Regions from separate parts of the Homo sapiens genome. Here region 2 is reported to be linked to region 1. Evidence: microRNA targets listed by miRTarBase, many of them from high-throughput screens and not tested one by one. Region 1 holds a microRNA gene; the other region holds the end of a gene's coding sequence.
What was found. Region 1 holds the annotated microRNA hsa-miR-4472 (GGUGGGGGGUGUUGUUUU, at 1,545-1,562, shown strand). A microRNA usually pairs through its seed, bases 2 to 8, with sites in the 3' UTR of a target mRNA and lowers its output. Matches are read on the target gene's strand: a 7mer-m8 pairs with bases 2 to 8, a 7mer-A1 pairs with bases 2 to 7 and ends in A, and an 8mer does both.

Region 1 (4,214 bases):
CACTCGGTAGCTCGTGGAAGCCTCACCCCTACCTCTGCCTCCATCTTCCCATGGCATCTCTCTACATACATGCCTGTCCCCAAATTGCCCTTTTTTATAAGAACACAGTCACACTAGGTTAGAGCCCACCCTAGTGACCTCATCCGAACTCATTACATCTGTAATGACCCTATTTCCAAATAACATCCCATTCTGAGTTAGGGGGAGCTATGACTTCAACATGTGAACTTGGGGAACACAATTCAGTCCATGACATCCCCCATGGCCATCGTCCCCTGAACTCACAGGCCCAGCTACCCGACCACTGGAAAAGAACAGAAACAGCCCCAGCCTGGTGCTGGGGCCCTGTGGTATCAGACAGACCACCTGGCTAGGGGGAGCTGGGGTGGCTACGGGTGGAGAAACCATCCGCAGGGGTCAGGGTGGAGGGTGCATCTTATTTGTTTGTCCTTTTGCATCATGCCTGGAGAAGCTGAGTCTCAGGACAGAGAGGGATTCTTGACATGACCTGGCCCAGAGTGCCACCTGGGCAGTGCTTCTGTCCCCTCCAACAGCAGAGTGCCACCCAAGCAGTGCTTCTGTCCTCTCGGGCAGCAGAGTGCCACCCAGCACCTGCAGGGATGCCTGGACACAGGGAGCTCGCTCTGCAGGGCGAGGCTATGGGTGATCCCTGCACCTGCTCTGGCTCTGGTGCTTCCAGGGGCCCCTAGCTACTCCCATGTTACAGGCCCAGGCCCAGAGAGGCCAGGGGAGGTCCCCAGGATCTCACAGCCAGCTGGATAGAGTGGAACGTGTGTGGCCCCCGATTCCCGGCAGGCACTTGTCCTCCAGCCAGACCCACTGCCTGGCACTCACCGGATGCTCTTTCTCACCGAGGATCAACTCTCCCTCCCTGAAGGGCGCCGGACCCTGAGCCTGCCATCTGTGAAATGGGATAGCAGTGCCTGCGTCTCTGGTACTCACGGGACCCTCCATCCTTGGAGATTTAAGAGATGTGGTCAATATCACCCCACACAGTTCCTGGCACGTGGTTGACAGCCAGGGACCACCAGCTCCCGCACCCTCAGAACAGCCTTTCCGAAATCCCAAACCTTCCCTGAGAGCCGCCAAGAATACCCTACCCATCTCCCTGTGGGGAGCATTCAGCACTCCAGGAGCGTTTATGGAGCACCGACTGAATCCCAGAGTCTTCCCAGGCTGCAGGCCCAGCCCTTCCTGCACTGCGGCTCAGGAATTTGCAGAGTGTCAGGCGAGACGCCCCCGTTCCCAATCACTTCTCTCATTGTGGGGCTTCATTTCTGTTCCCTTTGGTTGGGGCTGCCTGCTCAGCTCCCAGCGTTCTATTTCGGCTCACAACATTTATAAAAATGCATCCGAAAACCCTGGCGCTGCAATCTGGAACTAACCTGCTTCAAGTCCTCAGACAAAAGCTCCTGAATACTAATTGAAAAGTGATTAATTACATTCACGGAGCCCCATCTCCTCACTGGCAGACCCTTGCTCTCTCACTCTCCCTAATGGGGCTGAAGACAGCTCAGGGGCAGGGTGGGGGGTGTTGTTTTTGTTTTTTTAAGGCTGAGTTGGTTTAAATCTCATTTAATTTTCACAAGGGAGAGCCTTGAGCCTCAACTCAGATCTTAACTCGGGTCAGATCTGTCCCTGATCTGGACAAATCCCGGCCCTTCTCGGATTCTCATTTCCTTCTTTGGAAGGTGGGGCTGCGGCACCTGGGGGATTTTGGAAGGCGACCGTCCAGAATTCCAATCCCGGCTGCTCATAATTGCTGCGGTGGAGCCCTGGTCAGGCCCCAACACGGGCTCCCTGCCCCCGTCCTTTTCCCCACTCCCTGCACACCCATAAACATTCTACCCACAGTCCCTGTGGTCTTCCAGGACTCTGCTCAGAGCTCACCTCCTCCAGGCAGCCTGCCGGGCCCTCTTCTCTGCTCCACGAACACCCTAGAACCCTGGGCTCCTCCCTGACTTCTATCCCCACAGGGTGTTATGGCAGCCGGTCATCCACTCTAGACCATGAGCCCCTCGAGATTGAGGCTAGCATCCAGCCACCCCCAAACCACAAAACTCACCACAGCCCCTGAACGAGCTGGAGGAAGACCGCAAGCTCCACACCTGAGCCCCGGGACAGAGCCAGACTCCAACGATGAACCAGAGCAGAAGAACCTTGCACACAGTAGGCATTCAGTCAGTGACCTTCCACCCTGCCCAGCCTCTGAGTGTCCTTGGACCAGTACCTGAAGCCCCTCTGGGCCTCCATTTTCTCCCCTGTAAGATGGGTTGACTAGGAGCCACGCCCAAGACTGAGGGATTAATGAGACGATGCGTGCCAAACACAGGGCAGCATGCAGTAAGCGCTAAATAGATGTCCACATCCCTTTCCCGGCCTGCCCCTTCCCATTCCCGGCCCCCAGGGTTTCCGGAGCTGGGTCTCCATGCCCCTCCAAGGCTGCCCCTGGGCCTGGGGAGAACAGGCTGCTGCAGGTAGGGGGCCCGACCCTCTGACCCTGAAGAGACAGCCGCTGTCACTGGAGGGACAGGGGCCCGGGGCGCTGGCGACCGCTCCGGAGCAGGGTGGGAGGGGCTCCAGAATTCAGGTCCGCCAAGCAGAGGCCATGGCCAAAGGCTGCGCACAGGTGGGCCCCTCTAGCAGGGCTGCCTAGAGAGACCCCAAGGGGGGTCTGGAGGGGTCAGGGAGGGGCAAGTGATGGGCAGGGTCTGAGGGGACTGCGTGGCCAGCCCCCTCCATCAGACCCCCACTTCCGCTCCAGAGCTCAGAGGGGCAGCTCAGCCGCAGACCGGAGGCTGGGGTCACGGTGGCACCGAGAGGAAGCAGAGGCAGCTGAGGGCCCCGCCTGCCGGCGCCAGCCCTCCCTTCGCTGTGGGGTCGGTCCCTCCTCGCTGCACCCTTAATTACAAGTGTCCTGAAATCCTGCCAGAACACACTCTCTGAGACGGTTTCCCTCATTTAAATTCTTCCCTGACATTTGTACCACAGTGAACAAGAACGAAACTCCTGGGAGGAGGCACGGCCTGGCGCTGCGGAGTCTCCCTGTTGGAGGAGGAAGGAGGAGGAGGAAGGCAGGACCCTGGGCCTGGCCTCCAGAGAGGAGGTGCACGCAGAGAAGACAGCGTGGGCAGCCACCACGACCACCGCTCCGGGCCCAGGTCTCCCTCGTCCTTCCAACAGCCCCGTTTTACAGGGAGGGAAACTGAGGCTGAAATGGGAGAAGTGACTGGAAAGGCACGTGGTGGGGAGCCTCTCAATTTGTTCTGGATAAAAACATTCTCTCACAGGGTCCGCAATTCTACAGGAGCACTCACGGCTGATTCAATAGGAGAATTCCCCTTGGCCAAGGAACAGCCACTCCCAAAGTGTGAAGGCCTGGGCGGCCGCTCACCTGAGGGCCCTGAGCTGGCCGGGCCAGTGCATCCCTTCATCTGAGTACCCCCCAGCACCAGCCAGTTCATCCCCTCACCTGAGTCCCACTGTGGCCAGTGCATCTCCTCACCTGGGCACCCCACCACCAGCCAGTGCATCCCCTCACCTGGGCACCCCCCCACCAGCCAGTGTATCCCCTCACCTGAGTCCCCCCCAGCCCCGCGGCCATTGCATCCAGACTCTACTTCCATGCAGACAGCAGTTGACACTGCACCCCTTTACAGAGGAAAGAACCAGACTTCATGTCCAAGGGTGGGATGATCCCACCCCAGCTCTGCCACTTGCCAGCCGTGAGGCCTTGGGGCAATTCTCACTCCCAAGCCTCAGTTTCCCCACTTGTTAAAGCAGGATGAGCAGCTCTGAGGTGCTGAGTTGCTCTGGAAGCAACTCCACTGGGCCAGGTAGAGAAAACCCTGCACAGGCCTCCTGCAGACGGGCGGCCACCTGTTCTATGTGGGACCCGCATGCCATGGGGGCCTTCAGGAGCTGTCCTCACCAAGAGGTGTGTCTGAGGGTGAAGCTTCGGGTACTGAAGCAGATCCCGGTGAGGCCTCAGCCAGCAGCACACAGCTGGTGCCAGCGACGCCTCCTGCCTCAACCCACCACAACCCACCATGGCAATGAGCTTGTGTCTCTCATGGGCGTCTTTGGGTTTGGGGTTCTGTGTAAGACAAGGCAACAAGTGTCGCCAGAAGCAGGAGCATTCCCCGGGATCAGCAACCCGGGGAAGGTACGAGACCTTGCCAGACACCAGGGGA
Region 2 (4,089 bases), not on the chromosome of region 1:
TGAGACAGGAGAATTACTTGAACCTGGAAGGCGGAGGTTGCAGTGAGCCGAGATCGCACCACTGCACTCCAGCGTAGGTGACAGAGCGAGACTCCATCTCAAAAAACAAAAAAAGTTTAAGTTTTAATAGAACATTTTTTACAAGTATTAGCATAATATTAAAAAGATACTTTTTATAAAGATAATTTTAGACATGGGCAGTTACAAAAACAGTAGGGTTTTCATGTACCCTTCACCCAAACTTCCCTAATATTAGCGTCTTAAATAAACAATAGAACAGAATTCTCAACCAGTAGCGATTTTGTTTCCCAAGGGACATTTGGCAACATCTTGATACATTTTTGGTTGTTACAACACCTTCAGACATTTTGGAACAGGAGATACTACTGGCTACTGGCATTTAGTATTAGATGCCAAGGATGCTGCTAACATCCTTCAAGGCACAGCCCCCACCAAAAGAATTATCCAATCCAAGGGCTGAGTGTGGTGGCTCACACCTGTAATCCAGGGCTTTGGGAGCCCAAGGCAGGAGGATCGCTTGAGCCCAGAGTTGGGGACCAGCCTGGGCAACATGGCAAGACCCTATCTCTACAAAAATAATTCACTGGGTGTGGTGGCACGTGCCTGTAATCCCAGCTACTTGGGAGGCTGAGGTGGGAGGATCTCTTGAGTCTAGGAGTTAAGAGGCTGCAATTAGCCATAATCTTGCCACAGCACTCTAGCCTGGGTGACAGAGGGAGACTCTGTCTCAAAAAATAAATAAATAAATAAAAATAAAAGGCTGGGTGCGGTGGCTCACGCCTGTAATCCCACCACTTTGGGAGGCCAAGGTGGGTGGATCAAGAGGTCAGGAGTTCAAGACCAGCCTGGCCAAGATGGTGAAAACCCATCTCTACTAAAAATACGAAAATTAGGTGTGGTGGCGGGCGCATGTAATCCCAGCTACTCGGGAGGCTGAGGCGGAGAATTGCTTGAACCCCTGGAGTGGAGCTTTCAGTGAGCCAAGATCGTGCCACTGCACTCCAGCCTGTCTCAAAAAAAAAAAAAAAAAAAAAAAATCCAACCCAAAAAAGTCAACAATGCCAAAGCTTAGAAACCCTGCTATAATATAATTATCAACACTAAGAAACCAATATCAATATAATACTATTAACTAAACCACAAATTCCCCCCAATCCTGTTTTCCCACTAGTGTTTTTATGTTCCAGGATGGGTGCTCACTGTTCCTGGAGTGTCACTGTTTCTGGTCCCTCTAAGTGGATAGAGCAAGGAAATATACATATGTATACACACATCTATATGTATCAATATATCTGTTAAACGAAAACCATGAATTCAGACTGATGCCTCCAAATCCAGTCCTACAAGGTTCATTTTAAGCATTCCCATCTCCTGTTTTATTTGTAACTTCCTTCTCCACAGTGAGACACCCAGCTCTCATTATCTACAAGTTTACTTATTTGTTCAACCCTGTTTGTGTGTATTACATGGGCCCATGTGCCCACACCCACACACACAAAAGTAGTTTCAAAATTGCTAAATCATGGCTGGCCCAACGGCTCACACCTATAATCCCAGCACCTTGGGAGGCTGAGGCGGGCGGATCACTTGAGCTCAGGTGTTTGAGACCAGCCTGGCCAACATGGTGAAACCTTGTCTCTGCTGGAAATACAAAAAATTAGCCAGGTGTGGTGGCTCGTGCCTGTAGTCCCAGCTACTTGGGAGGCTGAGGCAGGAGAATCGCTTGAACCCGGGAGGCAGAGGTTGCAGTGAGCCGAGATTGCACCATTGCACTCTAGCCTGGGCAAAAAGAGCAAAACTCCATCTCAAAAAATAATAATAAAAAATAATAATTAAAAAAAAGCACAGAAAAGCAAACTATGGAATGTCATATAAATATTACGGGACATATAATTATCCCCGTATGATAAAAACTCTAGGTTATTCCAGAAAGTTTCTAGAGTCACTCAAATGTATTAATGCCCACCACTGGTGGGAGGAGTGGTATAAGAAATAAGAAATTCAGGGCCGGGCGCAGTGGCTGACACCTGTAATCCCAGCAATTTGGGAAGCTGAGGTGAACGGATCATGAAGTCAGGAAATCAAGACCATCATGGGTAACATGGTGAAACCCTGTCTCTACTAAAAAAAATTAGCTGGGTGTGGTGGCATGCACCTGTAATTCCAGCTACTCAGGAGGCTGAGGCAAAAAAATCACATGAACCCAGGAGGCGGGGTTTACAGTGAGCTGAGATCATGCCATTGCACTCCAGCCTGGGCAACAAGTGTGAAACTCCATCTCAAAAAAAAAATTTTTTTAATTTAAAAAATAAAACAGGACAGGAGCAAGGTTGACACAAAGAACTGTGGCCAGGGGAACAGAGGGACAGTTGGTCTCCTGTCTACTCACACCTAGAGGAAGAATACAGCAAATAACATTATGTGCCAGGCATCCTGCTATTCTAATTGCGTGGTCTCATTGAGATGTGGGTGCCACTGTAGTGCTCATTTTTAGAGGATGAAACTGAGGGTCGCAGAGGCTGAAATCCCACTGCTAAGGATCAATCAAAATTCAAATCTAGTCGGTCTGACTCTTGAGGCTGGGATCATGTAGCCACACTTATAGTGCCACACTGCCTCACTGTCTACTATCACGTTTTGTCTTGAAAAGAAGTGCTAGGGCCAGGCATGATGGCTTGTGCCTATAATCTCAGTACTTTGGGAGGCCAAGGCTGGAGGATCACCTGAGGTCAGGAGTTCAAGACTATTTTGGGCAACATAGGGGAGACCCTGTCTGTACAAAAAATTTCAAAATGCCAGACGCGGTGGCTCACGCCTGTAATCCCAGCACTTTGGGAGGCCGAGGAGGGTGGACCACTTGAGGTCAGCAGTTTGAGACCAGCCTGGCCAACATGGTGAAACCCCATCTCTACTAAAAATACAAAAATTAACTGGTGTCATGGGGCACGCCTGTAGTCCCAGTCTCCTGCCTCAGGTGAGGCAGGAGAATTGCTTGAACCCAGGAGGCAGAGGTTGCAGTGAGCTGAGATCGTGCCACTGCACTCCAGCCTGGGTGACAGAGCGAGACTCTGTCTCAAATAAAATAAATAATAATAATAATTTTAAAATTAGCTGGCGTGGTGGTACACACTGCCCAGCTACTTGGGAGGCTGATGCAGGAGGACTGTGTTGAGTCCAGTTCAGGGCTGCAGTGGGCTATGAACATACCACTGCATTCCAGCCTGGGTGACAGAGCAAGATCCTGTCTCAAAAAAAGAAAAAAAAAAAATGCCAGGAACTGTGGATGTTTAAACATGCTTTAAACTCATTTATACCTCCTCACAATATGCCGATTGAAAGCAGACATGAAGTAAACGCAATTATTTCCAGTGGATAAGGAAGTAAAGGCTTACAGAGGTTAAAAAATTTTGCCTAGTGTCACTCAGCTGCTTGGTGGCAGAGCTGACATTCCACACATGGTCTGTGTGATTTCAGAATCTGAATTCCTAACAATTACATCTACTGTCATTAGCCGGAGGTTCTTTGGTTTATTAGGGTGACAATAATCCCAGAGTCTCTTGACCTTCAGACACCCACAGCAAACCCCAGAGCTCTCTCTGGGCTCCCACACAGACTCCCAGCCTGCTGGTCTACTCTGCCCTCATGGATCCAGTTGATCAGAGCTCTTATTTTAGCAGCTGCATGCTGATGGTGCAGTGATGACCAAACAGCGACTGATCCACCCATCACTAGACAGCTGTCATACAGAGACAACAACAAAGCAACATCTAAGTCTTTATTAAGGTGAGTTTTTACAAACAAGCATCTATCCCAGTGTGGGGGATGAGGATGGGAGAGGAAAGCGGGGCAGGAAGATGAGGATTCTCATCTATTGATAATAAAGCTCCAGGTTCATCCCATCGTGGATTTCATCTGAAGGAAAGGTGTTAAGGAATCCTGACTCTGACTTCCGTCCCCACCCCTCTCATCCATTCACAGCCGGGTCAGGTGGCCTGAGGTCTCAGCCCAGGGCTAAGGAAGCCCATTTTGGACCAGGCCATTTTTATTTGGAGAGAACCAAAACTTTAC

Region 2: miRTarBase lists UBL5 as a target of hsa-miR-4472. Seed matches in the 3' UTR shown: 8mer at 3,836-3,843.

What each region holds. Positions count from the first base shown.
Region 1 is chr8:142,174,852-142,179,065 of GRCh38, forward strand. It overlaps MIR4472-1 (microRNA 4472-1), which reads left to right and starts at 1,488; the gene lies at 1,488-1,567. RefSeq lists an enhancer at 1-156.
Region 2 is chr19:9,829,809-9,833,897 of GRCh38, reverse strand. UBL5 (ubiquitin like 5) reads right to left here. Exons shown (of 5, transcript NM_001048241.3): 5 at 3,783-3,933. The coding sequence ends at 3,890. Among named protein-coding and RNA genes, the nearest start is that of PIN1-DT, 3.2 kb to the left of the region's middle.